4 linked regions of the Homo sapiens genome follow. The protein of the gene in region 4 purifies or fractionates together with the protein of the main gene of each other region. This does not show direct contact. Each region holds a gene or a part of one and is shown on either strand. Other genes may lie near its edges.

Region 1 (7,259 bases), on a different chromosome or scaffold from region 4:
CCTAATCTGCCAGAGACTAATCCCTGCCCCTGTCCCTATGTGAGCCCTATGTGGACTTCTTTGCCATCCTACACTGTCCTCTCTCCTGTAGAGAAAACTTGGGTAGTAAATAAAATGTAGACAATTTACCGTAATCACTAACAACATTTAAGAGTCTAGAATGTGCTTAATGTGCTCTATCTTAGCAATCCTATGAGGTCACACTACCCTATCATTTCCGTTCTGCAGTGGAGAAAGGTAAGGCCCAAGGAGGTTGGGTAACTTGTTCAACCTAGGAATCAAACAGGCTGACTGCACGGTCAGAGGTCTTAAAAACTGTCCATGTTTCCACCATCAGAGATGATGCTTTGGGCATGCTTCTTCTCAGACCCTTTTCCTATGCATAGAAATATTTTTCAAAATTATGATCACACTATATATATGATTTGGTTTTTTTCATTTGCATGAGATGGCGGTCATTTCTCCACTTCATCAAACATCCTTTGGACAAACCACTTTTAAAGATGCCTTTATAGTTCATTGTAAGGCTATATATATCATTTATTTAATCATGCCTCCAGTGATAAACATTTAGGCTACTTTGAACATTGTTTAAATTACCATACTGCTGAATATCCAAATATATAAATCTTTGGGAGAAAACAGCTACAAATTTTAAGGAGTACATCCTTAATTAGAGTCTGTTTCTTAATATGTGGTCATTCCAGATGGCCCGTGTCACATCATTTGAGGTTGCTTACTCAAAATGCACATCACTAGTCAGATAAATGATGATGATGATGATGGTAAAGATAATAATAACAGGTAATTTATTCAGCACTTCTACATGCCAGGAAGGGCTCTAAACCCTCTACATGAATAATCCACAGTGGATACTCTTGTTAGCCTCATTCTGTAGAAGAGGAAACTGAAGCACGGAGAGGTTCAGTCACTGACTCAAGATCACACATGGCAGAGCCAGGTCCAGCCCATGCCATCTGGCTCCCAAGTTCCACCTCTTCCACCCAGAGGGGTCTTTCATCTTTTTTTGGAGCCATGAATCTCTTTGGCATCTGAGGAAACCCACGGACCCCTTCTCAGAATGATTTAAAATGAGTAAAACACATAGATCCCAAATGAAACTAATGATACTGAATTATAGTTATCAAAATGTTTCAAAAAACAAAATTATGACTATATGTACGTTTTTATTAAAACCACAAATAACAGAACCTCGTGGTGGGTCTAATGACACCGTAACTTGGAAATAGTAAGGAGTATAGATGCTCTCCAGGCATCCACGCAACGACTGTCAAGTAAGATGAAAATAAGGGAATCGCTATTTGTGACAAAGTCACATGTATTACTACTATCACCGCGAGTTGCTGCCTTCATTCATCACAGAAGGCAATGCTAAATTTCAGTCGGAGGTTAGTGAAAATTAAGATTTAATTCTTCCCCTTCTACGTTCAAGGGCCCTCTGAATTCCACCCATGTAAAGAACCCCACTGCTAGTCAGCTTTCCCAGCCCCTGAACACCCCTTTGCTTTTGAACCCAGCTGACAGTGCACCTCTCTGTCCCAGCAGGAACGGGTACTCCAGGCCCTGTCGCAGCCCTTATCCTATGGAGATGCATTCTGAACAGATGGTGACCTCTGTGAGGACAAGACTGTGCTTGGTCATCTTAGCCTCTCTCTGGCTCTGGGCCAGACCTGGCCCAGGGCAGACAATAAACCCACATCTGTGGAACTGACTGGAAGCCAACAGTGGCCTGAAGCCACAGGCTGCTGATTCACACCTTGGCTGAGGAGGAGGAAATGGTGACGCCAACGCGTGGGTTCTAGCTTTCTTTGCCAGCACAGCGGGCGGGGGGCCATGCAATTCTGCTTAATTAAACAAAACAGAAAATACCATGCTTATGTGCTTGAAGGCAACTTTTCCATTCAGGACGGAGGTCGGGGCTGGGAAAGTGACTATCCCCTTATTACCAGTCAGTGATAGGCAGGGGAGCCAAAAGTGATCCTGGCAAACTGCTTCACCTTTCTAAGCCTCAGTTTCCACATTTGTGAAATGGGCTAATAACAGCATCCATGTAGCAGACATGTATTGTTTTTGCCTGTCCAAGCTCCATGCCCCCTTCTCCCAGCAACAGCGCCCTGAATCTCCTTCCACAACTATCCCTCTCACTACCAGTGATTTCAGTGGGACCGTCGATCTTAATATCCCACTCACACCTGGCCCATAGGGTCAGGTAATCCGGCTGGGCCAGTCAGAGTCTCTCCTGGATCTGGACTCTTGAGTGGCTAAAAGGTCTGAAAATGGATGGATCAGCTGCCTGCCTGGTGATGTCCTAATACCTACTGGAGTTCCCACTCCCTGGATGGCTCCAGCTGCCCACGTTCTTTCCAAGACTGGGTGCTGAGCTTTCCCCCTGATTCTGACAGCCCCACCTTTCCAATACATTCTGTTTGGCTTAAGTTAGCCAGGTCTGTTTCTGTCACATGCAATCCCAGAATCCTGACTAATACTCCTTATCTCACAGAGCTGCTATGTGGATTCAAAGACATAAAGCATGAAAAGCCTTGAGCACATAGTAAGCGCTTAGACAAATGATAGCTCTTCTATACTGTTAAGAATAAAAAATTACTATTGAATCTTGAGAACAAAACAAATTTGGAGTTATTTAATTGCCCTGGAATTTCAGGATTACTACTGGCTTGCAGAGTCCCCTCTAATAACCTTCCCTCTCTCCCTCCATCTCCACTGTCTGCACATGGCTCATTTGGACAGGGGCTCCTGGGTCTGTCTGTGCTCTGCTCCCTGGATTCACCCATGAAGGGCTCTTCTACCCACCCCTCAAGTTGGGGAAGTGCTTCTGAGCACCAGCTCCTCCCGCTACTCCAGTGACTGCCTCTGGCCCCGAGCCCTGGCCTCAGCCTTCGTGTGCTGTACTGGAGCTATGGCCTTCCTGGGGGGGGACCATGCCTTCTCTCCTGTGGTTCTCAGGTCAGCCAGGAGCCCCCAGGTCCTTCTGGCCCCTCTACCCACAGAGCTTCATCTCCATTATTCAAACCTCTTCTGCTTTTTCAAACACGCCATGTGCCAGGGTTTCCATTTCTTTGCCCTCCTGTTCTCTCTACCTGTAACTCCTTCACCCTTGCCCACTTGGCAGCATCCCTCCCATGCTTTGTGACTGGCCTCAGGTCACCTCTGCAGTGCTGCCTTCCCCAGGACCAGGTCCCCCAGAAGCCCAGGGCACCTGTCTGCCTGTCAGGACACTGACCTTCTTGAGGTCTCAATCCCTGCTTTGTCTATCCACATGTCATCTCTGTCGCCCAGGCTGGAGTGCAGTGGCGCAAACATGGCTCACTGCAGCCTCCATCTCCTGGGCTCAAGCGATCTTCCTGCCTCAGCCTCTCAAGTAGCTGGGATTGCAGGCGAGAATCATCACACCCAGCTAATTTTGTGGATTTTTAGTAGAGATGAGGTCTCACTATGTTCCCCAGGCTGGTATTGAACTCCTGGGCTCAAGCGATCTTCTCGCCTCAGCCTCCCAAGATGCTGGGATTACAGGCGTGAACTCCCATGCCCAGCCCTTATAATGAAGGCTTCTTGGTGGTGGTTGCTGTTTTTCCAAAGTGGTAGCTCTGGCAGCTTTGCCAGATAAAGAATAGGATGACCAGTAAAATCTGAATTTCGGATAAACAACAAATAATTGTTTCTCATAAATATGTCCCAAATATTGCATGTTTATTTGAAACCGAAATTGAACTGGGCATTCTGCATTTTCATTTGCTAACTCTGGCCACCCTCAGCCCTGGGAAAGCCTGAGACAGGGCTGCAGAAGCAGGCAGGTGAGCTCTGCCCACAGCCCCTCCTCCCTTTACCACCTGAAGAAGACCCTGGGCTGAGAGTCATGCCCGCCTGCAGGTGTGCATCTGGGCCAGCAAATAAGGGAGGAGAAAGTCCTGCAGTTTGGAGAATGGGGCAGAGGCCGATGGCTTGTGGCGGAGCTCAGGTCCGCAGGCTTCTGCAGAGGCAGAGTCCGGAGGAGGCAGCCACACGAGCCCTGCCCCCGGCCCACTGCTGGAGGCACTGAGCCTCCTGAGTCTGTCATGTCAGCTGGTTCCCGTGTCACGTCAGTGGGCAAAGGATGCCAGCTCCACCCAGGGGCCAGCTGACCCCCCCGACAAGGGCTCTAGGATAGGGACCACAGAGCCTCGGCTTCTGGGCATTACCCAGGCCAGCAGCACCCCTCCTCAGGCATTCTGCATAAAAGCTCATTGGATCTCCCCAACAAAGCCCCCTACTGCCCAGAGAAGGCTCAGGGCCAACAGTGAGTGAATGACAGAACCAAATTAGAACCCAGGCCCTGCCTGCAGAAGCCACATGGCCTTCTCAATAAACCTGTCTTCTCTTTTGGCCACTTGTGGGTGCTCACAACTCCCTGGTTGAACCCACCAGACTAACAGGCTGCTCGGGGGGCAGTGGCTCCCTTTCCTGCAGCTGCAGGGACCCACAGCTGGCTTCATCGCCAAGAGGAAGGGGAAAACTGAGTCATGCAAAGCAAGACTGCTCCCCTGACATTCCCGCTACCACAGCTCTTTCTCCGAGGAAAAAAGGATGCACAATTTGCAAGCAGGACGTGAGTGTCACGGCGGGAACGGCACAGTCCCTCTAGCCTTCCTTGTTTGGCAGTGTGATAACTGGGCTGCTTGCCGACTTGCCTGCACCTCCGGTGGGAGGCAAGAGGATGCATGAAACGCCCAGGGAAGTGGGCTGTAGGGCACACCTCTAACCTGGATGACGTTTCTGGTGCCCTGTGACCTTAGGGTACAGACCATGCTGGATCTGCAGAACTTGAGCCTACAATTCTTCCCAACCCTATTTGGCTGCAAGCACGATGGGGAAGGGCCTGGACTTGCTGAGCAAGGAACATTTTAACTAGGAAAGCATCTGCCCAGACCTTCCCTCGTGGTATTTTAAACTCATCGCTTTCTAGTTCTCTAGCTCACGGACTGGAAAGCCACATCCAGAGACCTCCCTCTGTGGCAGGAGTGGGGAAAGAGCCTCTGAAGGCTGGTGCCTGCCTCAGGAGGACAGGAGAATCCTTTGGGACAGGATGGGGCAGCAGGATGTGGGGATCTGGCTGGAGCTGCCCCAGCTTGACGCAGCTTCTTTTTAAAAATGAGCATTTGCTGTTTTTTTATTTTTACTAAAAACAAGAATATGTGTTCATTGCAGAACATTCGGAAAAGAGAAAAGCACAGAAAAGCACAGACAAGCAGAAAAAAAAAAGGAATGACATTTTATCAGCTGTATTTCTGAGCTTACACAGACTCATATTTTCATCCTTCGTTTGTAATCAGGTGAAAATCAGCCTGAGCATGCTATTTTGCAAACCAGCTTTAGCTATTTAATATGCTTGTGATAGAAGATGGAACACAGTTTTACCATCTTGATGGTATTCTAGCTCATGGATATAGCACGTTTTATCTTTGCATCTCTACTGATGCACTTTTAAGTAGTTACCAACCTTTTATGATCATAAATGATACTAGGTTTGTACACTCCTAATATAGTTTACCATTATCAAACCTCAATTACATGCTAGGCCCCTTTAACTCTCACATTAGCCCTATGAAATTGGAACTATTTTTATCCTCATTTTATAGATGAGGAAACTGAGGCACAGAGGCTTGTCTGAGGTCACACAGTTGGTAGGTGGCAGAGCAGGGATTTGAACCCAAGCTGTCTGATGTACTTTCTCAGCCCACTAGAGGCGCAGAATGGCATTGATTCAAAGTCTGAACTAAAGTGACATTTAAATAATTTGAAGATATGACTGCTCCACCTCCTTTGACCCTGAGACACCTGCAGCAGCACAGAGTGCACCAGAGCAGGCTGGGACTTCTCCCATTGAGGATGACCGGCCAGGTGAGCTGAGGGGCTGGTGCATTGCACCTATGGGGTGGGGTGGGGGATGGGATGGGGGAGCATGGTTGACCAGGTCCCTAGCAGAGCATCCCAGATCAACACAGAAATGCCCTTTGCTTGCCACTCACTTGGCATACATAGCTTGCCTGTGTGACAAGCACCTACTTTTTCCCAATCCAAAGAAAGCAATAGTCGTTAAAGAAAAACCTACCCAAGGGGCCTTAAGAGGGCCCTAACTCTTGTGACACAGACACAGTAGAGGACAAGAACTCTCCTGTGCAATAGGTAGGAATGGCTCTGCCTTGCTCCCGGGGGCCTATCCCAGCAGCAGCATGGGCCCAGCCTGGGGCAGGTATCCCCCAGAATGCCTCTTGAATGAAAAGACCACGAAAACTGCATAGTGTGCCTTCTGGGCAGCAGGCCGGAAAGCGGTGCAGAAATTTAGATCACGACTATTATTATCATCAATAGTACTTTTCATGACTACCATTTATTGAGTACCTTTATTTTATTTTTGCCGACAGAGTCTCCCTTTGTCACCCAGGCTGGAGTGAAGTGGCGCAATCTCGGCTCACTGCAACCTCCACCTCCCAGGTTCAAGTGATTTATTGAGTGCCTTTTATACCCATGAGGCTGAGCATTGTGTGCTAGGTACTATGACTATTCCCATTTTACAGATCCTCACATAGTGCAAGGTCACCCCGCTCAGGAGCGCTTGAAGAGAATTCAAAGCCAGGTCTTTTCATCATGAAGGTAACGGTGGGTTGGAAAGACATGTGCTAGCAGTTTTATTCTTCCCAGCAGCAGGGCTGGAGCACAGATTCCGTGCATACATCACCAAAAGCCTGCACAATCGTCCCAGAAGGAAGTCACTGCACCTATTTTACAAATGTAAAAACTAAGGGGGGGCATTCGGCCAGTTGTCCAAGGCCATGAAGAACTTGAACCCAGATGTTTACCTCTAACACCCGAGTTCTTTCCACTCAACTTTGCTGCCCTGCCCTCTGTGTTCCCACAAAACAGGTGCCAGGGATAGGAGGAGAGGGAGGAAACTGGGGGCTGGAGAAGATAATGAAGCTAATTTGGGCAGCAGATCCATGGTTTGTTCTAGACCATTGGGCTCACCTGCTGGAGGCCCCTTAAGGGACTGAGAATGCCAGTAATGCCTACTAAGGGCGCAATCTACTCTTCCAAACTCAGCTGCTCAGCACAGTGACCCCTAGGCTTCTGGAGCCTGGCAAATCAAAGAGGGAGGTTTCAGGGCTGGCAGTACAGAGCCTGCAGAGCCATCACTCCAGGGGCACCATCTACCCAGAGCTTCCTGGGGTGAGAATGACTAAGGG
Region 2 (7,987 bases), on a different chromosome or scaffold from region 4:
AGGGGCGTCCCAGTCAGTCCCTGAAGGCTCTGCGGGGCAAGCAGAAGGCAGTAGGTGCTCGAGTTAGGTCTGGCCTTTTCTGCCACCTTTGAGACTGGAGCTCCAGGCCTTGAGTGATTTAGGGTCTGCATTGCTTTGCGGGGAGGCGCACACTCGATCGCATCGGAAGAGCCCTCTTTCTCCACTGGGGATCTGCGGGGGCCGCAAACTTGCCACGATAGGTCAGCCTCGGTGCTGGAAGCCAACCGCCCGGTGAGGAAAGGCAAGACCTGCACTCCCACCTTTCTGCAGCTGCCGACGGAGTGCACAACCCACCAGCCCGACTGGCGGGCGCTGCACACTGCCATGCAGCCTTGGGCTCCGCGCAGCGCCCGGAACCCGCAACGCGGGGCTGCCACTGGGACAAGGAGAAACCCCGATCCCAGACAAAATAGGAAGCCTCAAATCCAAGGGAAGCCTTGCTGTGAAGGTACAGACATACACCATCTGGAGCGCCCAGTTCTCCCTGGATCTCCCAGGGCTCGCCCAGAAAAGGGCACGCAGATACCGCGGCGGAAGCGCAGCCCCCACCCGACTCGAGCCTCCGGCCCAGCGGCTGCTCACCGTCTTGTCGCTGTGCTGCTGCTGCTGCAGCTGCTTCATGAGAATGGATTTCTTCTTGTCCTTGCAGCGCTTGTTCTGGAACCAGACGCGGATGACCCGCGGGCTCAGGCCGGTCATCTCCACCAGCTGCTCCTTCATGAGAGCGTCGGGCCGCGGGTTGGCGGCGTAGCAGGTCCGCAGAGTGTGCAGCTGCTTCTCGTTCAGCACAGTCCGCACGCGGGTCGTCTTCTCCGTCTGCTTGTGCACGTGCGGGCGCAACGCGGGCTGCCGGCCCGACCCAGCGTCTGCCAGGACAGGGTGAGGCCAGAGGTTAGCGAGGGGCCGCCACCCACCCGCCCCGAGCCCAACCTCCGGGTGGCCCAGCCCCCCGGGGCCCGATTTCGTTTCTGTTTTATTCTGTTTGTTTCGTTTAATTGTTCGTCTTCCTCTCCATCTGTTCGCCTTACTCGGAGAGAGCTGTGCATTTTCGTTCTTTCTCTCGCTCCCGGGCCGGACTGCCCCGCAGCGATCTCTCCCGAGCTCAAGCAGGGCGCGGGAGCTCGGCGACAGGCCGCTGCGGGGAGGGAGTGGCTGCTCAGGGATGTGCCTCCTCCAGTCGCAGGACCCTCGGAACGAGCGAAGCCCTCCGGAAGAAGTCGGAGTTTCAGAGGAAGAGGAAAGAGGCTTGCCCAGGACTCTGGAGAGGGAAAGGGACCGACGTGGACCCAGGGCGAGGCGCTGCCCAGGGGACTGGGTGGGAGGTGCGAATATGCCGGGGGCCTACGAGGGCCCTTCCCCTCCTTCAGAGCCCATTTGGACAGGGCCAGGCCACATGTGTAGAAGACTCATCCACGGTTATGGACGGGCCTCCAGGGCTTGCAACAGTTCCTTCCTGCCCGCCCTTGGGCTTCGGCCCCTGTCTCCTTCCTCAAGGCTCCAGGTTCCCCAGCCCAGTGGCCTCCCACCGACCAAGGTGCTGAGCAGCCGCTGGCACTCTCCTCGCTTGGCCCCAGGTTCTCTCCATCCCGGGGAAACAGTGACTGATTCCAGAGCCTGCACCCTGAAGCCCGAAACAAACAAAGGGGAGCCTCTCCGAGATCCCAGATGGGGGTGCACTGAATACCCGCTTGCTCCCATTTCACATCTCCATTTGATCCCGACCCATATATACCGTGGATCTGTACTGCACCATTTCGGTTTATGTTCCCCTCTACGAATTTCTAGGTCTGGACAAATATTTACAAATAGCCCATCCAGCCCAGTTTCCTCTTTCTATAGGGAGGAAGTGAAGATCCAGAGAGGGGAGGAGCGGGGCAAGGCCACACAGCACCCAGAGGCCCAGCCTGGTCTACGGATCTGTGCTGCAGGCCTATGGCTACCTGGGGGAAACTGCCTTGCCTGGGGTGGAGGCACCTCTGTTTCTGTTCAGCCGTACCTGCCCATTATACACTCAGACCCCATCTCTGGGCAGCTGCTGATTAGGACCCAGAATATTCCAGTGACAGTCCACTATGCATTGATACTCCCCCTCCCCCAGAAGAACCTGGCTAAATTGTTCATCAAACTGGGCCTCAAAACAAGATGGCAAAAACCCCTCTTTGTTGGGTTCTTGGCTCCTGGCTGACCAAGCTCCTGCCCAGCTCCCAGTTTGGAGCTGTGTTACTTACACACATACCCCTGGGCAAACCTTACCCTCTGACAATAACACATATTCCTCCAAGAAATTCCTAATACAAGCCCCAAGACGGACACCACTTAAGATTCCCTGTTGTCATCCACTCTTCTGCTCCTAGCACTGTGCCCTGCATGTTCCTGGTCATGGAGAACACGATTCTGCACAATTCTCCGTGCTCACACACTCATACACACGCAGTTTCTCCCGAGCACACGAGAATACACACAGCCTTGTTCCCAGCACACAGTTCCGCACTGATACAGAAAAACACTATCCCGGCAGACGGAACCACACACAACTGACAACTTCTCGTTAGGGACACAAGCGTACCCCTACACACACGCACGCACATACACCCCGCTCACCCCGGCACAGGCCCCGGCGCGCTTACCGGGCAGATGCAGGCCGCGGGCGCCGGGAAGCGGGCCGGGGCTGCGCGGGCTGCCGGCCGCGGCGCGCTCGAGCAGGAGGCCGTGGTCGGCGCGGCAGAGCAGCTCGTGCTCCCGCAGCGAGAACTCGTCCCCAGGCAGCAGCTGGCGGCTGCACACGGAGCAGCGGAAGCACTCGATGTGGTACACGCTGTCCCGCGCCCTCATCACCAGGTCGCTGCTGCTGAAGCCCACCTGGCACTTGGCGCACTTGATGCCGAACAGCCTGCGGGCCCAAGGTGCGGCGGTGTCAGCGCTGGGCCTGCGGCCGCCCTCATCTCCCTGGCTGCTACGGCTCCGGCGCGCGCCCAGGACACTTTGTGGCCACCAGGAGACTGCGGTGACCCGCCTGCGGGCATTCCCGGGCCCGGGGGAGCGCTGCGGCACCCGTGCGGGATGCGGATGGCCTTCTCCCTGGGCAGGGCCGGGGCGCGCGGGCAGGCCGCCATCCCCAGTCCCGGCCCCGGCCCCTGCGCGCGGTGGCCCAGCCCGCGTTCCCGCCGGCCTCACCTGACATAGTCCCGCTTGCAGTAGGTCTTCCCGTCTCTCACGAAGCACGTGCACGTCTCGTCCAGGTACTGGCTGCACTCGGCACACTTGAGGCAGGCCGCGTGCCACTCGAGGTCGGGCGACACCCGCAGGATAAACTGGTCGTGGATCTGACTCCCGCAGCCCACGCACATGGCCGTCCCGGGCTTCTCTGCCGGGGAAGGGCGCGGGGCCGCGTCAGGCCTGACTGCCCGGACCCAGGCCGGCCTCGGCTACTCCAGCCCCAACCCAACCCGCTCGCTCTCTTGCTCTTTCTTTCAAGACTTGCGACCATAAGGAAAGATGATGAGCTCTCTAAAGGTCCAGGGCATTGGAAACGAAAAACCAGTATCTTGTGGATTGCTGAAGGTTTCTTCTGTCCCCCACCCCAAATATTTCGTTATTACATTCATTAATGACAGTCGTTTTGTCGACGTGTCTTGAAACTAAACGCAAACACGAAACTAAGAAGAGAGTAAATACACAGGCACTGCGGACGCCTGGATATCAACACCTAACGGTGCTGTCCTGGCATTTCCGCTCACACACTCCCACTCACAGCGGCTGCCTCCTATCCCAACACAGACACATCGTCTTTCGGCAGTCCCCGCTCATCCTCTCAGACATTTCTTAGTTTAAATATCCCAGAGCAAGCGAAAGAAAGCTTCCTAGCTTTGAAAAACCGAAAGGCAAACAAACAACAACCAAAAAAAAAAAAACCCACATCCCTAAATCAAACCTAATTGCCTTTGCGCAAAACAGAAGCAGATTTCGCAGCCCGAAGTCATCCTAGCCGGCTTGAGAAATAGTGTTTACTTATAAAATAAAACAACAGGATTCCCAAAGATAAGCAGTCCTGCAGGAGACATGCATTCGTTTTTCCTCTCCTAAACTATTCTGACAAATAGAAGCCACTTGTAGAATCCACTAAACATTTTTCTGCATTAGAAATTTTGCATATTAAGCATACACACACACCCCACCCCACACACACACAGAAATACTTACTCTTGGAATGATCACCCATAGCACCCAGAAAAGGATAATGAAAAATAATATCCACCATGCAGAAAAAGAGATGTGCGCAAAGTGTGCGGCCAGGGGCAGAAGGACGAGGGTCGCGCGCCCGGCCTCGGCTCTTTGCTAACTAACTCCTACTGCCCCGCGGAGTTGAAGGAGCGATTCCGCACCGGCCCGCACGCAGCATGACGTCAACACGCACTAGCCCCGGGCCGGAGCTGGGGGCGGGACCTGTGGCGTCACGAAGCTTCCCCAGAACTGCCGGGGATGCGGGGGAGGTGATGGGGATCCAGGGGCTGATGGGCGGGGTGGGTTGGGTTGGAGGCTGGGGGTGAAGGGAGATTGGCTGGGAGGAAGTGGGCCAACCCTGATTGGCCCGGAGTGAACAATGGAGTGCAGCCCCCCCACCTCCGAAACCTACAAGGATCCTCTCTCATGCCCCGGGCCTGGCAATCTGGACTGGACCTTGCGTCACCGCCGAGCTGGCTCCGCGGCCGTTACAACTCTGAGCTTCCTCTTGGACTTTCGGGGCGGTTTTCCCAGGCGCGCTGGAGCTGGGTGATGGATACCTGAGGGTGGAGATGGCTCTCCTTTAAGAGCTCCCTTCTTATATAAATTAAAAAAAAAAAAATTAAACCCACTCTCAGGACGAGAGAGCCGAGGACAAGGGGGATCCGTTTGGACGTGACCGTCATCGTCCAGCTGGTCACCTTTCTCCTCTCATGTGCCTTTGTTCTTCGGGTCCAAGCTAGAGAGAGTGTAGAGAATGACCACCTGGGTTCTGATAAACTCTATTTAGACTTTCCTATCCACACACACGTAGAAAACTTTAGATTGGGGCATTACGTGGGTTGAGCCAGAACCCAGATCCAAAAGCGCTCACCCGGGACTGGGACGGGTCCTGACTCCATCCTTGCTGCTGCTGCCGCTGCTGCTGCCCCTCCTCCCTCTCCTCCACCACCACCTCCTCCTCCTGCTCCACTTCCTTTTTTTTGTTGTTTTGTTTTGCTTTTAATTTGTTGCTGTTGTTGTTTTAAATGTAACATGGACTTCCCCGCCCCCTCATTTTTCCCCCATCCAAATGGCATAGCTCCTTTTAGGAACACTGCTGGGGTCGATTGCGTGTCCAACTTCCAAAATAAAAGATTTTTCTAAACTCTTGTCCTTCATTAACAAACCCACTGCAATGCAAATAATCAGAAACGAACGTAAGGCGCTGGGTAATTTACAGTGGTATCTGCGAGGCGGCGGCTCGTTGGTCCTGAGAAAATCTGAGAGCTCTGAGCACAGTCCAGGCATTCTTTCAAAGAAATCGCTGTGGGTTTTGTTTGAAAGGGTTCAAAGACCGGCCCATGAATTATAAATAACATTTATCCAACCATGGTGTCTGTTCTTGTTTTCCCATTAAAAGGAGTACCAAGAACTTGGTGTGCGCCTGGGTGGGGCGCGAGGTGAAACGCCTGCGGATAAAGTGTCTCCACCGCCATTCCAGACCCTGCCCAGACCTTCGGGCTTGTGGGCCTGAGGGCGCGGTCGCTACTGCCGTTCTACTAAGAGCATGAGGTTGGTTGGCGTCGAAACGGATGCAGCCGAGGGCGCAGGCCGAGGCTTTGCAGAAGGCTAGGGCGAGGCCCCGAGTGCACGCTAACATTATTCGACCATGGTCCACGGTGAACGTTCCTCACCGGCCCCGCGCTGGGGCGAGCGCTTTAAGCCTCGTCCAGTAGCGTCCGGCTTTTGAGCTCCGCCTCCACCTTTAGGAGGTCTAGTCTTCTCACCGGTCCGGCTTTTTTTTTTTTTTTTTTTTTTTTTTTTTTGAGATAGACTCTTGCTGTGCCGCCCAGGCTGGAGTGTAATGGTGCGATCTCGGCTCACTGCAACCTCCGCCTCCCGGGTTCAAGCGATTCTCCTGCCTCAGCCTCCTGAGTAGCTGAGATTGCAGGCGAGCGCCACCACGCCCCGCTAATTTTTGTATTTTTAGTAGAAACCGGGTTTCACCATGTTTGTCAGGCTGGTCTCGAACTCCTGACCTCGTGATCCGCCCACCTCGGCTTCCCACAGTGCTGGGATTACAGGCGTGAGCCACCGCGCCGGGCCACCGGACCGGCTCTTGTTACAGTTTACCACCCGTTGGCCAATAGGCCATTTCTTGCGTCTTTAGTCAACAGTCCCCCAAAGAGCGCTCACCCTGAGTGTGTGCGGGCAGGTCAGGGGTTGGGGGATGCTGCGTTTGAATGAATGTGTTTATGTAAATGGGGGACAAGAGCGAGGGGGTGGGTATCTGTGCCTGAGGCTGTGCCAGGACACCTGTGTGACCTCAGGCATCTTATTTTAATTCTCCTTCCCTCAGTTTCCTCATCTGTAAAATGGGGGTATAATAATTGTAGCTATCTCTATTACATAATAATTAAATAAACTGTTCTCTGGAAAGGGCTTAGAGCAATACCTAGCACAGAGTAAGTGCTCCATATGTGTTAATTATGACAGTTATGACTGTGGCTGTATCTTTATGTTGGGAGCCTCTGCCCACCCTGCCTGCGTGTGTCTGGATGGGGAGGGGAGGTCTAAGTATGTCTCAGTATGTGTCATCTGATGATTTCTTTGTGATTTCGATGTGTGCTTGCTGTGTGTGTGTCTGCTGTGTAGATGGGGTTTGGAGATGTGTGGTCTGTGCATAGACTTTGTGTACAGGTTATATCTGTGAATGTGGGTGCACAGTCAGAACTGGGAGGGGACTCGGTGTGTGTGTCTGCATGTGGAGTGAGGAGGTGCGTCTGGCCCAATGGCCCTACCCTTAGGTGACCCTGGACTAGGCCTGGCTCCCAGCACCTACTAGCTCTTGCTCGCCAGGCCAGGAGCAAGCACATCTATAATTCAGGGGTTCAGACAGCTGGCCAGGAGGGGGCAGCCCCAGGCTGGAATCGTAGTCCCAGCTTTTAACCGTCTCCTGCCCAGAGAAACTCTTCCTTCCCGTCCAGAAAAACCTGTCCTTTGAAACTTCACTAGGGAGGTGGGGATTGGAGAGGGTCACCCCTCCTGGGATGCTAGGAAGCCAGGTCAAAACAAATATTTGTTCAGGGCCACCATGTGCAAAGTCCTTGTTGTTAGCCTATTAGGTCTTAAAAGTAATGCCATGTGGTGAGTAGTATTGGGCCCCTCCAATCCTCGAGGAAACTGAGGCTCAGAGAGGGGAAGTTACTGCCTCAGGTCACAGGTTAAATCATTGCTGGCATTGAACCCAGGTCTATCTGGCTCCATCTTGCTTGCTTTTTTCACTGTGCCATTGAAGAGCCACATGAGTGTAGCTCCATCATTCACCCATTTCACATCTCTGGAGCTGTAAAACCAGGGATCCATTTCAAAATCACTCCATGTGTGACTTCTGGTCACAGCCACCCCTGAGAGACCAGCACTGACATGGGAGAAGAAAACACCTGCACCTGCTGGGCACGGCCACAGGCACCATTGATGTGGCCCTACCCTGGTTCTCTGCCTCCTGGCTGCTCCCTTCTCAGGTATGGAGGGGCCACACACTCTCCACATCCCAGGCTGGCATGCAGGAGACCTGGGTGCCTCCTATCCTGGGTCTTAGATCACTTTCTCCTTATCAGGAATGGCAGCTTGAGCTCCATAGCTATGCTTTATCCCATAAAACTAGCCTGTACTGGGGAGAGTTCAGAAGCACAGAGAAGTCTCCCTGATTATTTTCTCCCCAAAACCTCCTCTACCACATCACTTACAAAGGCACAGCCCC
Region 3 (7,259 bases), on a different chromosome or scaffold from region 4:
CACATTCCTAGGAGCAGAATTGCAAAGTCATGGGATATGCACATCTTCAGATTTGATAGGTACTACCAGACAGTAAGCCAAGTGCTCATACCAATTTACCCTCCTGTTAGCAAGATTAGGACAGTGTTTTGTTTTGTGTCGTTTTGTTTTGTTTTTGAGACAGAGTCTCACTCTGTTGCCCAGGCTGGAGTGCAGTGGTGCAATTTCAGCTCACTGCAACCTCCATCCTTGGGATTCGAGTGATTGTCCTGCCTCAGACTCCCGAGTAGCTGGGATTACAGGCGCATGCCACCACACCTGGCTAATTTTTGTATTTTTAGTAGAGATGGGGTTTTGCCATGTTGGCCAGGCAGGTCTCAAACTCCTGACCTCAGGCAGTCCACCCCCCTCAGCCTCCCAAAGTACTGGGATTACAGGCATGAGCCACCACACCTGGCCAAGATTATGACAGTTCATTGCTGTTCCACATCCTCACCAGCGCTTGGCATTTTATATTGATTTCATTTTAGCCATTCTAGTGGGTGCAGAGTAATAGTAGTTCCCTGTATATTTTGTTTGCATTTCTCTAATGCTAATGAGATTGAACACCTTTTCATACTTTTTTTTTTATGAGACAGAGTCTCACTCTGTTGCCCAGGCTGGAGTGCAGTGGCATGATCTCAGCTCACTGCAACCTCCGCCTCCCGGGCTCAGGCAATTCTCCTGCCTCAGCCTCCCGAGTAGCTGGGATTACAGGCGTGTGCCACCACACCTGGGCTAATTTTTGTATTTTTAGTAGAGACGGGGTTTCACCATGTTGGCCAGGCTGGTCTTGAACTCATGACCTCAGGTAATCCGCCCGCCTTGGCCTCCCAAAGTGCTGGGATTACAGGCATGAGCCACCATGCCCAGCTTTCATACTTTTTTATAAGAGATAGGGTCTTGCTATGTTGCCCAGGCTGGCCTCATACTCTTGGGCTCAAGCAATCCTCCTACCTCAGCCTCCTGAATAGCTGAGACTACAGATGTGTGCCATTGAACCCAGCTACCTTTTCATACCTTTAAAGACCGTTAGAATATTCCCTTTCATGAAGGACCTTTTTAAATCGTTTGCCCATTTTTCTACTGGATTATCTGTCTTCTTCTTACCAATTTATAGAACTTTTTAGTATTGCAGATAAAGTTCCTCATCGGATATCTTCTCTCCTTCTATTGGGTACCTTTTTATTGTCTTAATGGGGGTCTTTTAATGACCAGAAGTTCTTAGTTTTAAAATAGTCCAGTTTATCCATTTTTAAATTGTTAGTGCTATTTGTGTCCTGCTTGAGAGATTTTTGCCTACTGCAAGGTCACAAAGATGTTTTCCTCTAAAAGCCTTTTGGTTTTGCCCTTTTGTTTTAGATCTGCAGCTCATCTGGAATTGAGTGTGTGGTGTGTGTGTGGTGTGAGGTAGGGGTCCTTTTTTTCATATGGATATCCAATTGACCCAGAACAGTGTATTGAAAAAAAAAATCTGTCTTAGTCAATTTGGACTGCCGTAACAAAATACCATAACCTGGGTGGCTTAGACTACAGAAATGTAGCGCTCACAGTTCTGGAGGCTGGAAGGCCAGGATCAAGACACCAGCAGATTCGGTGTCTGGTGAGGACCCACTTTGTGGTTCATAGATGTCACCTTCTTGCTGTGTCCTCAGTGGTGGAAGGGGCAAACTAGCTCCCTTAAACCTCTTTTTATAAGATCCCTAAAACCTTTAATGAGGGCTCCACCCTAATGATCTAATCACCTCTCAATACCTTATCTTGGGGGTTAAGATTTGAACAGAGGAATTTGGGGGAGACATAGACATTTGGAGCATAGCATCTTCTTTTCCTCAGTGCACAGCAGTGCTGCCTTCATCATCAGTCAGGTGTCTGTAGGTGTGTGGCTATTTCTGGACTTGGCACTCTGTCCTACTTGTTGATTTCTCTGCCTTATACCAATGCCACACCATCTTAATTATTGTAACCATCTTAATTATTTATAAAAAGTCTTTTTTTTTTTTGATACAGTCTCACTCTGTCCCCCAGGCTGGAGTGCAGAGGTACAGTATTGGCTCACTGCAACCTCTGTCCCCAGGCTTAAGCAATTCTCATGCCTCAGCCTCCTGAGTAGCTGGGATTACATGTGCACCACCACAGCCAGCTAATTTTTTGTATTTTTTGTATTGGGGTTTTGTCATGTTGGCCAGGCTGGTCTCAAACTCCTACTCTCAAGCAATCCACCCACCTCAGCCTCCCAAATTGCTGGGATTATAGGCATTAGCCACTGCACCCAGCCAGACTTTATAGAAAATCTTGATATCTGGTCATGGAAGTCCCCTAGCTTGGTTATTTTTTTTTGGTACCGCTTTGTCTATTTTCGGCCCTTTCCATTTCCATGTAACTTTTAGGATCAGCTTGTCAGTTCCTACCAAAAGGAAAAAAAAAAAAAACTCCTGGGATTTGAATGGAATTGCAGATATCCCTCTGTTTGTTTAGGCTTTACTGCCTCTCAGTAATGTTTTGTAGAGGTTTTTGGTTTTTTGGTTTTTTTTCTGAGGCAGAGTCTCACTCTGTCACCCAGGCTGGAGTGCAGTGGCGCGATCTCAGCTCATTGCAACCTCAGCCTCCTGGGTTCAAGCTATTCTCGTGCCTCAGCCTCCCGAGTAGCTGGAATTATAGACATGTACCACCACGCCGGGCTAATTTTTGTATTTTTAGTAGAGACAGTGTTTCACCATGTTGGCCAGGCTGGTCTCAAACTTGTGGCCTCATGTGATCCTCCCGTCTTGGCCTCCCAAAGTGCTGGGAGTATAGGTGTGAGCCACCATGCCCAGCTTGTTCTGTAGTTTTTGTGTAAAGATCTTGCATATCTGTCATTGGAATTTTTTCCCTAGGTATTTAGTGTTTATTGATGTTATCGTAAATTACACTGATGTTTTAGGGTGGTTTTGTTTTTTTGTTTTGTGTTGTTTTCCTGTTAGCTGCTGGTATTTAGAAATGTGATTGATCTTTTTCGGATTTTGTTCTAATAATCTTGTTAAAGGGTTAACCCCTTACTAATTCTAATAATTTGTAGATTCTTTCTTAATATTCTACATATACTATTATGTTACTTGTAAATAGTGATTTTTTTTTTTTTTTTTTTTTTGAGACAGAGTCTTGCTCTGTCACGCACACTGGAGTTCAGGAGTTCAGTGGTGTGATCACAGCTCACTGCAGCCTTGAATTCCTAGGCTCAAGATATCCTCCTGCCTCAGCTTCCTGTGTAGCTGGGACCACAGGCATGTGCCACCACACCTGGCTAACTTTAATTTTTTGTAGAGTCAGGGGTCTCACTATGTTAGGCTGGTCTTGAACTCCTGGGCTCAAGTGATCCTTATGCATCAGCCTCCCAAAGTGCTGGGATTACAGGTGTGAGCCACCACACTTGGCCTTCTTTCTTTTCTTTCCAATCCATTTGTTTTTTATTTCTTTTCCTTGCTTTATTGCACTGGCTAAGATTTCCAGTGCTGAATAGGAGTGATGACAGTGGGCATCCTTGTCTTTCTCCCAACCTCAGAGGGAAAAGTATCAATGCATTTGTAGATATTCTTTATCAGATTAGCTTCCTTTCTAGCAGCTTGTGTCTTTGTATTGTTTTTCATGAGCAAGTGTTGAACTTTTTCACTGAGTTTTCCAAATACTTTTTCCATTGAGTTTTTTTACTTTAACCGTCATATTGCCAAAAGTCTGCATTTGTTATTTCCTCCAAATCCTCACAGGTGGTGCCTGGTTTCCTTTTATTTTGGTGATCTTGGTTCATTCGAATCTGCAGGAAATCTGGGGATCTAAATCCAGAATGATTCAGAGAGCTGGAGGAAGGGGGCTGCCCTGGCTTAACTTGGCTCATTCCCAGGCCAACACCTCACCGTGATCCACGTCCCCACTGCTGTGCTGAAGCTGGCGTCTGCCCCAGGGAACCCTGCCGGTCACACATGCTCAGGATTTCATGGGCCTGTGTCTACCCTGCTTTTTTCTTTATTCTTTGTAGTTGTTTAGGAGTGGGGGGCCTCGCAGAACACCTAGTCCAGCCCACTGCCCAGAGCAGGTGTGTCCCTTTCATACTTCAGTCCACTTTAAAACAGCCTTCCCCCACCCCCTTCTATGGTAGCAGTTCTCCTCGGGGTCTCCATGGACACCCTGTGCCCCAAGCCGATGGCCCCACCCAGCAGCATCAGCACAGCTGCCCCCCTTCTCCGCAGAGCAGGCTCTCCTTTACGGGACTCTCCTCTTCCCTCCCACCTGATGCGCATCAGCAGCCACGGGCCTGGCCCTTGAATCTTGTCTAACTGCACTCGCTGCCTGGTGGCCTCATCCCACCCCAAGACCACTGCACTGATGGCTCCAACCCCAACTTCTCCCTGCACTCAGCTTATGAATACGACGGCCCTCATTGCATCCATGCAGAGACCTCAGAGGCAGCTCAGCTCAGTGCTCAGCGTGGCACTCGGGGCTTCACACTTCCCCCGTGTCCTGTCTGAGAAAACTGTGACACCATCAACCCAACTGCTCAGACCAAACACCCAGCTGCCGCCCTTAGTATCTCTTTTTCCCCTCGGTGGCCATATCCAGGCCGTCAGCAGTGAGTCCTGTGGTCAGTCTTCAAAATGCGCAGGGCTGGGCTGTCAGGTGGGTCAGCGTTCACCGTGTGCACTCTGGGCTGCTGTGTGCTGCTGCAGACACTCAGCGGCCGTGGCCCTGGGGTAGGGGGGGTGGGTGCTGGGCAAGGCGCTGAATTGAACCGCCCCCCTGCATGCCAGCTCTGTGACCAAAACTGTTCTCTCCTCTCCTCCTTGCTGCCTGCCGGCCCCTCTGTCTGCAACCGCCTGCTGGCCTCTGCATGGCAGAAGTCCTCCAGCTCTGCATCTTCCGAGGCCTCGGAAACCTGCCAGTCCGTTAGCGAGTGCAGCTCCCCCACCTCGGTCAGTGCTCCCAGCCCGGCCCCAGGACAGTCACCAGCTGCCCCTCCCATCCATGCCCTCCCCACCTGGTGCCATTACTGCACAAAGGGCCTGGGTTCAGCCAGGGGTGCGTGCACACAGCACCTGTCCCCAAGAGACAAGCCACCTGGCCATTTCCTACAGTCACTGCCCACACAGCCACATCTTACCCCTGGGCCTGGTGGGACTGAGGGGCCACAGTCACACTCCATGCTCTGCCCTTGGCTGTGATTGCGAACCAGAGACCCCCTGATAGCCCTGGACACCCTGAGCCTCAGCCACAGTGACGGGCCCCCGGGCCATAGGTGGTAGGGCCAGTGGTCCCCCTGACCTGCCACACCCTCCCTGCAGGACTGGTCCAAGGTCGGCTCCCATGAGCAGCCCTCAGGCGCCACTCTGCAGCGGAGGAAGGACCGAGTGGAGCTCCTGCGAGACACAGAGCCAGGCCCTGCCAGTGGGGGCACCCTGGGCCCCAGCGGGGAAGAGGCACCGCGACCCCGGATGTCCCCTGCCACCATCGCAGCCAAGGTAGGCTGGCCAGGGCCCCCCTTCACGCCCAGGTCAGTCCCAGGAGGCCCAGCCAGTGGCCTCAGGGCCGGCTCCAACCACCTGGCAGGGCTGCCTGGAATTTGGGCAGAGGGGATTGGGGGCGCAAGGCTTCAGCCTGCACTTTCCCACCCTCAGCACGGTGAGGAGGTGTCCCCCGCCGCCAGTGACCTGGCCATGGTGCTGACGCGGGGCCTGAGCCTGGAGCACCAGAAGAGCAGCCGGGACTCGCTGCAGTACTCCAGCGGCTACAGCACGCAGACCACCACGCCCTCCTGCTCTGAGGACACCATCCCCTCCCAAGGCAGGCCCGCGGGGCTGGGGTGGGACCAGGGACAGCTGGGACTTAGCCATCCAGGAGGGCCCCGTCCTTCCCCCTCTGTGCTCACCCTGGTGGGCTGGGGGCAAGGGGCCACCTGGGCCCTGGGCCTCACTGTGTCCCGTGCCCCCAGGCTCCGACTACGACTGCTACTCCGTGAATGGGGATGCGGACAGCGAGGGCCCGCCCGAGTTTGACAAGTCATCCACCATCCCGCGCAACAGCAACATCGCCCAGAACTACCGCCGCCTGATCCAGACCAAGCGCCCAGCCTCCACTGCTGGGCTGCCCACCGCGGGGCTGCCCACGGCCACTGGCCTGCCCTCGGGCGCACCCCCCGGCGTGGCCACCATCCGCCGCACACCCTCCACCAAGCCCACCGTGCGCCGCGCCCTGTCCAGCGCTGGCCCCATCCCCATCCGGCCGCCCATCGTCCCTGTGAAGACGCCCACGGTGCCTGACTCCCCCGGCTACATGGGGCCCACACGGGCGGGCAGTGAGGAGTGCGTCTTCTATACCGACGAGACCGCCTCACCCCTGGCACCGGACCTCGCCAAGGCCTCCCCAAAGAGGCTCAGCCTGCCCAACACAGCCTGGGGCAGCCCATCCCCAGAGGCAGCCGGGTACCCCGGGGCAGGGGCCGAGGACGAGCAGCAGCAGCTGGCGGCCAACCGGCACAGCCTGGTGGAGAAGCTGGGGGAGCTGGTGGCGGGTGCCCACGCACTGGGTGAGGGCCAGTTCCCCTTCCCCACTGCTCTGTCGGCCACCCCCACGGAGGAGACGCCCACCCCACCCCCAGCCGCCACCAGCGACCCCCCGGCCGAAGACATGCTGGTGGCCATCCGGCGTGGGGTCCGGCTCCGCAGGACCGTCACCAACGACAGGTCGGCGCCCCGCATCTTATGATGGCGCCACCCTCCCCATCCTCTCAGGCCCCAGTGCGAGCAGGTGGCCTGGTCTGTGAGCCGCAGGCACTCAGAGCAAAGGCCCAGCCAGGAGAGAGGACAGAGCCAGGGCAGAGGCCATGCCACTTTATGGAAAGACACCTCACTTGGATTCCAGCATTTAAACAGGAAGTGACTTCTTAGCAAGCCTGGCCAGGACGGAGCCTGCAGGCCTGGGCCTGGTTCGGGGTCTGTTTTATGCTCTTCGGTCCCTCCTCTTCCTCCTCTGGGGCCCTGCCTCTTCCCTACCCATAAGCACCAGAGCCAGGGCCGCTGCCCATGACAGAGGGGCCAGGCTGGCCTCCCTTTCACCATCCCGGCCTCTCCCAGGGCTGGTCCTGCCTCAGCTCCTCCTGGAATGCTGGCCCCCCTCTCCCCTGCCTGAGCCCCCTCCTCCCCTCTTGCCTTCTCTCTGCCTCTCCCAGGCCCCTCTCCCTCCAGGAGGCGGGGCGGCTGTGGAGGGGCCAGGTG
Region 4 (7,259 bases):
TCGTCTGAGGTGGCGATGGTCTTGATGGCATTGTGGTAGAGCGGGGTGGAGCTGGGCATGGCGTACTTGGACATCTGGGTCATCATCAGTGACAGGGGGTTCTGGGAAGGTGTGGGGTCTGGGGAGGAAGTGAATGGTAGGCTGGGGTTCATGAGGCCGCTGGGAGGGTTGGCGGGAGGTGCTGAGGAGCTGCTCCGGGGGCCGCTAGGCGGGAGGGTACCTACAGAAACGGGGAGACAAAGAGAGCAGGGGTGACTGGGGAGGGGCAGATGAGTTTGGCTGTGGATATGGGGAGGTTTAGGAAGCGGTCAGTTCCCCAAATCACCTGGTCCTTCAGACACACCCACAGGCCCCCACTATCTCCAGAGCCCACCAGTCTTCAAGCAATTCCTGCAGCCTCAGGGCCCCAGGCAAGGGGAAGATCCCAGGCCCCAAGTACGATCACTCAAAATGCCTGGGAGACTCACGTGGTACCCCCTGAGAAAGCCCACAAATGTCATCATCTGCCCCATAAGCAGAGCCATCCACCTCTGGGCCCGTGGTACACAGGCCCTTACTCACTCACTGCCCAGCCCCAGCATGGACACACTGCTCAGCGCCTGCCTGCCTGCCTGCCTGCCTGCCTGCGCAATTGACTCACCCTGTTCCATGTTGCTCAGGGTGGTGGAAGAGTTCATGTTGAGAGGCGGCTGCTTGTTCTGGGAGACCCCCGGGCTGGGCATGGCCGTCTTAGGTGAGGCAACCCAGCCTGGAGAAGGCACCGCCATGGAAGGAGACTTGAGCCTGCTGGGCGAGCCAGTGGGTGAACGGACACTGAGGGAGGAGCCGAGGACCTGGGGCGACTTGAGAGGTCCTGGCGGGTTGGCAGAAGGCAAGGGCACCATCTGTGAGGGAGTCTGGGGTGACTTGAGGTTGGCAGAGGGCGAGGTGACCAGGGGTGAGTGCACCTGGCTAAGGGTGGGCGACTTCAAGTGCCCCATGCCCGGTGAGCCCATCTGATTAATACTGATGGTGAGGTCCGAAGGCCGCCTGCCTAGCCCCCGGTTTGGGGCTGAATGCACGGTCCCAGGAGGATTGGACGCAGGGGGCAGAGGCATGTGGCTGAGCCGGGTGGTGCCCACGTTGCTCATGGGCATTGAGCTCTGATCAGGGCTGAACATGTCTTGGGTATTGCCCATGTCCTGGGACATGGCTTGGTAGGGTCCCTGGCCTCCAGAGAATCCCTGCTGGCCCTGGTTGGGAAACTGTGAAGGCATCAGCATCTTCTGCGGGCCGCCCATCACGCCACTGCTGTTCTGGGCCCGAACCCGGGCCATCTCCTCAGGACTGAGGCCCTGGGGCCCCATCAAGTCCCCAGGGCCCCGCATCTTCTGCGACATCAGCATCTGCTGCTGCGGGGTCATCTGCACGTTCAGGTTCATGTTCATGTTCATGTTGACATTCATGTTCATGTTGAGGTTGCCTGGCCCCATGGGTGGGTCCACCTCCCTCAGCCCAGACTGCCCCATGGGAGGGCTCAGGAGGCCCCGGCCTCCACCAAACTCCATGCCCATGGGAGTGCCCGCCAGGCCCTCACCACCAGCCATCTGCCCGGGAAACATGGCAGGATCCATCTGTCGGTGCGCCTGCATCATCCGCTCCATCTCCATGCTCTGTCCCATGCCACTGCCTGCCATGCCCAGGGGGCGCTGCATGCCCATCGACCGCTTCTCCAGCAGCTGGTGCCGCAGCAGCTCCTCACGGACCCGGGGAGTCATGAATCGCTCCGCCTCACCCTGCCCACCTGGGTAGGGCATGGTGTTCTGGGCAAAATTGCTGGGTCCCCCCATAGGGGGCAAGTCTTCGGTCCAGCCCATGCCTGGTCTCACGGGCCTCTGCATGGCATTCATGGGCACCTCCATGGGCATACTCTGCATGCCCCCAAACCCAGGTACCCGTTGTATCTGGTTGCCTGGGAAACGGGGCCCAGGAAAGGGAGGTCCGCCCCGGAGCTGCATGGGATCTTGAACATCCATGGGCCCCCGCAGCTGCGCACCCATTCCAGGTGGCCACTGATCCCCAGGCTTGCTGTGGTAAGGAGGCGGGGGCCCCCTCACCATCATGCCCCCCATGCCCATCATGTCCTGCAGAGGACGGCTCCCATGCAGCCCAATCTGTTCCTCTTTCCGCCGTTTCTCTTCGTAGTACTCCTCCTGCAGCTTGCGCCAGGCCACCTGCTCAGGCGTGAGGCTGTCCTGGCCCAGCCTCTGTATCATCATGTTCATCTGCTGCCCCATGTCCCCACCCGGGGGGTGCCCAGGCACTTCATGCTCCAGCGGGGGGCCCCCTAGGCTCTGTGTCTGTGAAATCATGGACTGCAAGGGTTCCTCATATTTCTTCAGCCCGCTGGGAGGGGCCGTGGGTGGCTGCTGGGGGGGAGGGGGGGCTTGTGCTGGTGGGCCCCCCTCACCCGCTCCTCCTGGGGGCCCCTTGAGGAAGGGCTCAGTCTCTCCGCTGCGGAGCAGCAGTCGCTCAATGTCTCGCAGCGTCTGGAGGGACCGTTCCCGATGCTCCAGCTGCTCTTTGGACAAGCCCTCTGAGCCCACCAGGCTGCGCTGCCCATTTCCAGGGGCGGCTGCCTCCCCCAGCAGGGCAGGGCCGGGGGCACTGCTGGGGTCTCCTCCAGGAGGCAGAGGGTTGTTGGCGGTGGTAGCCGTCGGGGTGTTAGGGTGGGTGCCCCCAGTCCCACCACCTGTGCTGGCAGCTCCCACCGAGTTGGGGGCCAGGTCCTGACTGCTGTCCTCAGGAGGCCCCTCTGGGGGCAGAGCAGGCGGGGCACTGCCAGGGGCCGGGGGTGGCGGCGGCGGCAGTGGAGGTGGCTGGGACTGCGGGGTGCCTGCTGACGGCGTGCTCAGGGGTAGCGGTTCTGGGGTGGGGGGCACTTTAGGGGCCTGCAGAAGGACAAAGAGAGCATGAGACAGGTAAGGGGACGTTCCACCCAGTCCTGCTGCTCACAGAGGCGCCACGCTCACCTGGTCAAGCTTGGCCCGGGGCACGTTCTGCTGGTGGTAGGCGAGGATGGAGTCGGCCCGGCCCTGCAGCACTGCCTCTGCAGCCCTGCACAGAGTGGGGGCACCGACAGCTCAGAGAGGTGAGCAGGAGGGAGCCCCACCCTCACCCACCCCACCCTGCCCCTGCACGGGGCTCCCTCGGAACCCCAGGCTGAGAGGTGCTGGGCAGAGAGAGAGAGAGACTTGGCCTGCCCACCAGGCACTTACGTGTTGGCCAGGTGGGTGGTGAAGACATATACGAACTGCGAGGGAGGCTTTCCGGGGACGCCCCCGCCCCCGCCCCCGCCCCCAGGGGCATCAGGCCGAAGGCCAGGAGGAGGGCCGTGCGGGGCGCCTGGCACGCTGCTCTCGCTGAGGGGCAGTTGGGTGGTTTGGCCGGGACCCAGCTGTGGGGCCGCCATGGCTGGGTCTGCTACATTACAATCTGCAGGAGAGAGGACAGGGAAAGGGGCTAAGTGGTCTAGATACAAGAAGGACCAGCTGATGCCCCCTCCCACTGATGCTCACAGCCTTACAGCTCGTGCCCACAGGGACATTTGATGTCAGTATCTGGTGTTCTCACCAGGCTGGTTTCCACGATGGCAAGAGTGGTGACCATGTGGAGAGCAGGGACAGAGAAAATGTGTCCTCTCCACAGGCTCCCATGGGCCTGGCATTCTGCTGGGGACTTAACAGGTGTGATTTCATCTCATCAACACACCCTGGGAGGAACGTGTCACACACTCCACTTAACAAAGGAGGAAATAAGTTCCTCACCCACAGTTACACAGCCAGTTAGTGCAGAGCCAGAACTGAACCCAGGGCCGGGACTCTGAAGCTCCGCTCTGAGCTGCTGCCCCTCTCACTGGGTAAGTGTATGTGCACACAGTCTAGTGACCCAGTTAGGGAGAAGGCAGAGAGGGTACACAAGCTGATGATCCAAATGATGGATGGTTTTTCACTCTAGCCCCACCACTAACTGACTTTGTGATTTTATGAACCAGACATCCCTCTAAGCCTCGGTTTCTTCATCTATAAAATGTAAAATACTAACCTCCTCCTTGCACAGGGGGCAGGCCAAAGAAATATATTTTTTAACAGTAAGTTTAAATCAATGTCACAGACTAAAAAAATCCATTTGAAAAACAGAGAGCCGGGAGCGGTGTCTCACGCCTGTAATCCCAGCAGTTTGGGCGGTAGAGGCGGGCGGATCACCTGAGGTCATGAGTTCAAGACCAGCCTGGCCAACATGGTGAAACCCCGTCTCTACTAAAAATACAAAAATTAACTGGGCATGGTGGCGCATGGCTGTAATCCCGCTACTCAGGAGGCTGAGACATGAGAATTGCTTGAACTTAGGAGGTGGAAGTTGCAGTGAGCCGAGATCACACCATTGCACTCTAGCCAGGGCGACAGAGCGAGACTGTCTCAAAAAAATAAATAAATAAATAAAAATAAGAAAGAAAAAACAGTTAGAAAAAGCTGACATACTGGAAACACTCTCAAGACAGACCAGCTGCCCTCAGCACCAAGGGAAGTTTTGTTCCATGGTTAGACACTTGACTGTAAGTCTTAGCGTAGAAAAAAATCTACAACGGGTCTAGGTGAGTGGGTAGACCCATTCGCATGCCAAGAAAAGCAAGTCACAGTTCCTGGCCCGCAGACAGTAAGTACCAGCATTCTCAGTTAATGGGAGACAGATTGCCTGAAGTTGTCTCCATCCAGCCAGGGCAGTGACCACCTTCCCATGGGCCCAGTGTCAGGCTGCCCTCTTTGGAAAAAGTTTCTTCTGCACCTTCTTCTCTGATGGACCCACCCCAAAACGGCCCTGCTCTGGACCCTATCTATCCAATTTTACATAGAAGAGCAGAGCCAGAAATTTGCGGGGGAGCTTGAGAGCTGACCTCAATGTGTGAAGGCTGCTGAGTAGCTCTTGGATACGAGCTATGGGGAGACAGGCAGGGCTTAGTCCAACAAGGAACTTTCTAGTACAATAACAATGATAAAAGCTAACATGTTACATGTATAACCTCATTTACTCCTCATACCAACCCTATGAGATAAATAATACTTTTACAGATGAGGAAACTGAGGCCCTTTCCCAAATTTACAGAAATAACCTGGGTTGCAAACGAAGGCAGCCTGATGGCAGAACTAGTCCTGTCAATGTCTACGTTCTATCGCCCCTCCAGTAAGAACTCTTCAAGAATCTAAGGGCAGGCCGGGCACGGTGGCTTATGCCTGTAATCCTAACACTTTGGGAGGCCGAGGCGGGCGGATCACTTGAGGGCAGGAGTTCAAGACCAGCCTGGCCATAATGGTGAAACTCCATCTCTACTAAAAATACAAAAATTAGCCAGGCGTGGTGACGCATGCCTGTAATCCCAGCTACTTGGGAGGCTGAAGCAGGAGAATTACTTGAACCCAGGAGGTGGAGGTTGCAGTGAGCCGAGATTGTGCCACTGCACTCCAGCCTGGGCAACAGAGTGAGTGAGACTCTGTCTCAAAAAAAAAAAAAAAAAAAAAGAATCAGGCCGGGTGGCTCACGCCTGTAATCCCAGCACTTTGGGGGGCTGAGGCAGGTGTATCACCTGAGGTCAGGAGTTCAGGACCGGTCTGGCCAACATGCTAAAACTCCACCTCTGCTAAAAATACAAAAATTAGCCAGGCGTGGTGGCAGGTGCCTGTAATCCCAGCTACTCGGGAGGCTGAGGCAGGAAAATCGCTTGAACTCAGGAGGCAGAGGTTGCAGTAAGCCGAGTTCGTGCCATTGCACTCCAGCCTGGGCAACAAGAGTGAAACTCCGATTCAAAAATAAATAAATAAATAAATAAATAAAAGAATCTAAGGGTAGTACGACTAAAATAGTCGCCTTGAGTATGGGATGTTAGCAATTTCTACTTTGTATTTCCCTATGTTTGCCAGGCACAGTGGCTCACTCCTGTAATTCCAGCACTTTGGGAGGCCAAGGCATGAGGATCGCTTGAGACCAGGAGTTCAAGATCAGCCTGGGCAACATGGCAAGACTGTCTCTACAAAAATTAGCCAGGTGTGATACATGCCTGAGCCCCAGCTACTTGGGAGTCTGAGATGGGAGGATCACTTGAGCTCAGGAGTTTGAGGTTGCAGTGAGCTGTGATCACACCACTGCACTCCAGCCTGGGTGTCAGAGAGAGACCCTGTCTCTAAACAATAAATAAATAAAACTCACAAAGTTTCTACAATGGTGCAGTCTGATGTGACATAAGTGAACTGGAGGTGGTGGCTATGGGGGGAGGTGTCTGGTCTGGGAAGCAGTAAAGGCTTCTATCATCAAAGGGTTCAGCCAGAGGCTTGGCGACCACCAGGTTAGTCCCACGGGGGAGAGAGAACTGATACAGGATGGTCTGTGAGGTTCCAGCTAGCTGTAGAGGTTTGGTATTTGACCCTCTACACCCCTGTCACAGACATAGTCTGCTCACTCCATAACATTTGCTGACTCTCTCTCCTCCTCTGTAATTGGCATCATGATAACACTGACCTCACAGGGCTGTTGTAAGGATTAAATAAAACAGAGTAGCAAAGTAGCCAATGTACTCTTTTCTTTCTTCTTTCTATGGTCCCTGCCTTCAAGGAGTTCACAATTTAATAGTCTCTGGCTAGTTTCTTTTTCTTCTTTCTTTACTTCTTTCCTTTCTTTCTCTCTCTCTCTCTTTTTAGAGATGGGGTCTCCCTATGTTGGCCAGGCTGTTCTTGAACTCCTGGGCTCAAGCAATTCTCCGGTTTCAGCTCCCCAAATTCTGGGGATTACAGGTGACAGCCACCACACCCAGCCTCTCTGGCTAGTTTCTTATGTCTCTCTCCTCAAAAAGATGTAAACGTAAACTTTGAGGGAAAAAAAATATGTACAAGCTTCCCAGGGGCAGGGGTTACATCTGGCTCTCCCCCATCACTCATGGAAGGACAAGATATAGGCGAATCCATAAAAGAATCAGAGGAGGAGTGGGCATCCCTCCACACCCACTTCTTGTCCTGGTGACACACCCTGGGTACTTGCCAGGAGTCAATTAGAGGTTAGGGAAGGGCACTAGAGACACGGCCAAGTGGCAACTCACACCCAGGCTTAGCAGGGCTTTGCACAGCAGAGCCAACTGCCCGGCTCCCAGTGTCCCTGGACGCTTCACCGCCCTCCCTCCACTAACCAGTAGGTGGCAGCATAGGCCAGGAATTCACAGGTAGAGGTGCAGGTGA

The links.
Region 1: the proteins of BCL9L (region 4) and SH3PXD2B purify together in Homo sapiens (affinity purification with mass spectrometry; one large-scale study listed by BioGRID and IntAct). This does not show direct contact.
Region 2: the proteins of BCL9L (region 4) and ISL2 purify together in Homo sapiens (affinity purification with mass spectrometry, with the first as the bait; one large-scale study listed by BioGRID). This does not show direct contact.
Region 3: the proteins of BCL9L (region 4) and MTSS2 purify together in Homo sapiens (affinity purification with mass spectrometry; one large-scale study listed by BioGRID and IntAct). This does not show direct contact.

Annotation. Positions count from the first base shown.
Region 1 is NC_000005.10:172,441,936-172,449,194, forward strand, and holds part of SH3PXD2B (SH3 and PX domain-containing protein 2B), read right to left. Parts: intron 1-7,259. UniProt on the Homo sapiens protein: Adapter protein involved in invadopodia and podosome formation and extracellular matrix degradation. Binds matrix metalloproteinases (ADAMs), NADPH oxidases (NOXs) and phosphoinositides.
Region 2 is NC_000015.10:76,333,176-76,341,162, reverse strand, and holds the start of ISL2 (insulin gene enhancer protein ISL-2), read right to left. Parts: upstream 4,391-7,987; 5' UTR 4,280-4,390; coding exon 4,222-4,279; intron 3,386-4,221; coding exon 3,196-3,385; intron 2,912-3,195; coding exon 2,649-2,911; intron 888-2,648; coding exon 604-887; intron 30-603; coding exon 1-29. UniProt on the Homo sapiens protein: Transcriptional factor that defines subclasses of motoneurons that segregate into columns in the spinal cord and select distinct axon pathways.
Region 3 is NC_000016.10:70,663,168-70,670,426, reverse strand, and holds part of MTSS2 (protein MTSS 2), read left to right. Parts: intron 1-1,380; coding exon of another isoform or gene 1,381-1,464; exon of another isoform or gene 1,465-3,148; intron 3,149-3,814; coding exon of another isoform or gene 3,815-3,913; exon of another isoform or gene 3,914-4,030; coding exon of another isoform or gene 4,031-4,087; intron 4,088-4,886; coding exon 4,887-4,961; intron 4,962-5,330; coding exon 5,331-5,507; intron 5,508-5,663; coding exon 5,664-5,829; intron 5,830-5,977; coding exon 5,978-6,750; 3' UTR 6,751-7,259. UniProt on the Homo sapiens protein: Involved in plasma membrane dynamics. Potentiated PDGF-mediated formation of membrane ruffles and lamellipodia in fibroblasts, acting via RAC1 activation. May function in actin bundling.
Region 4 is NC_000011.10:118,899,979-118,907,237, forward strand, and holds part of BCL9L (B-cell CLL/lymphoma 9-like protein), read right to left. Parts: intron 3,475-7,259; coding exon 3,258-3,474; intron 3,097-3,257; coding exon 3,012-3,096; intron 2,931-3,011; coding exon 641-2,930; intron 221-640; coding exon 1-220. UniProt on the Homo sapiens protein: Transcriptional regulator that acts as an activator. Promotes beta-catenin transcriptional activity. Plays a role in tumorigenesis. Enhances the neoplastic transforming activity of CTNNB1.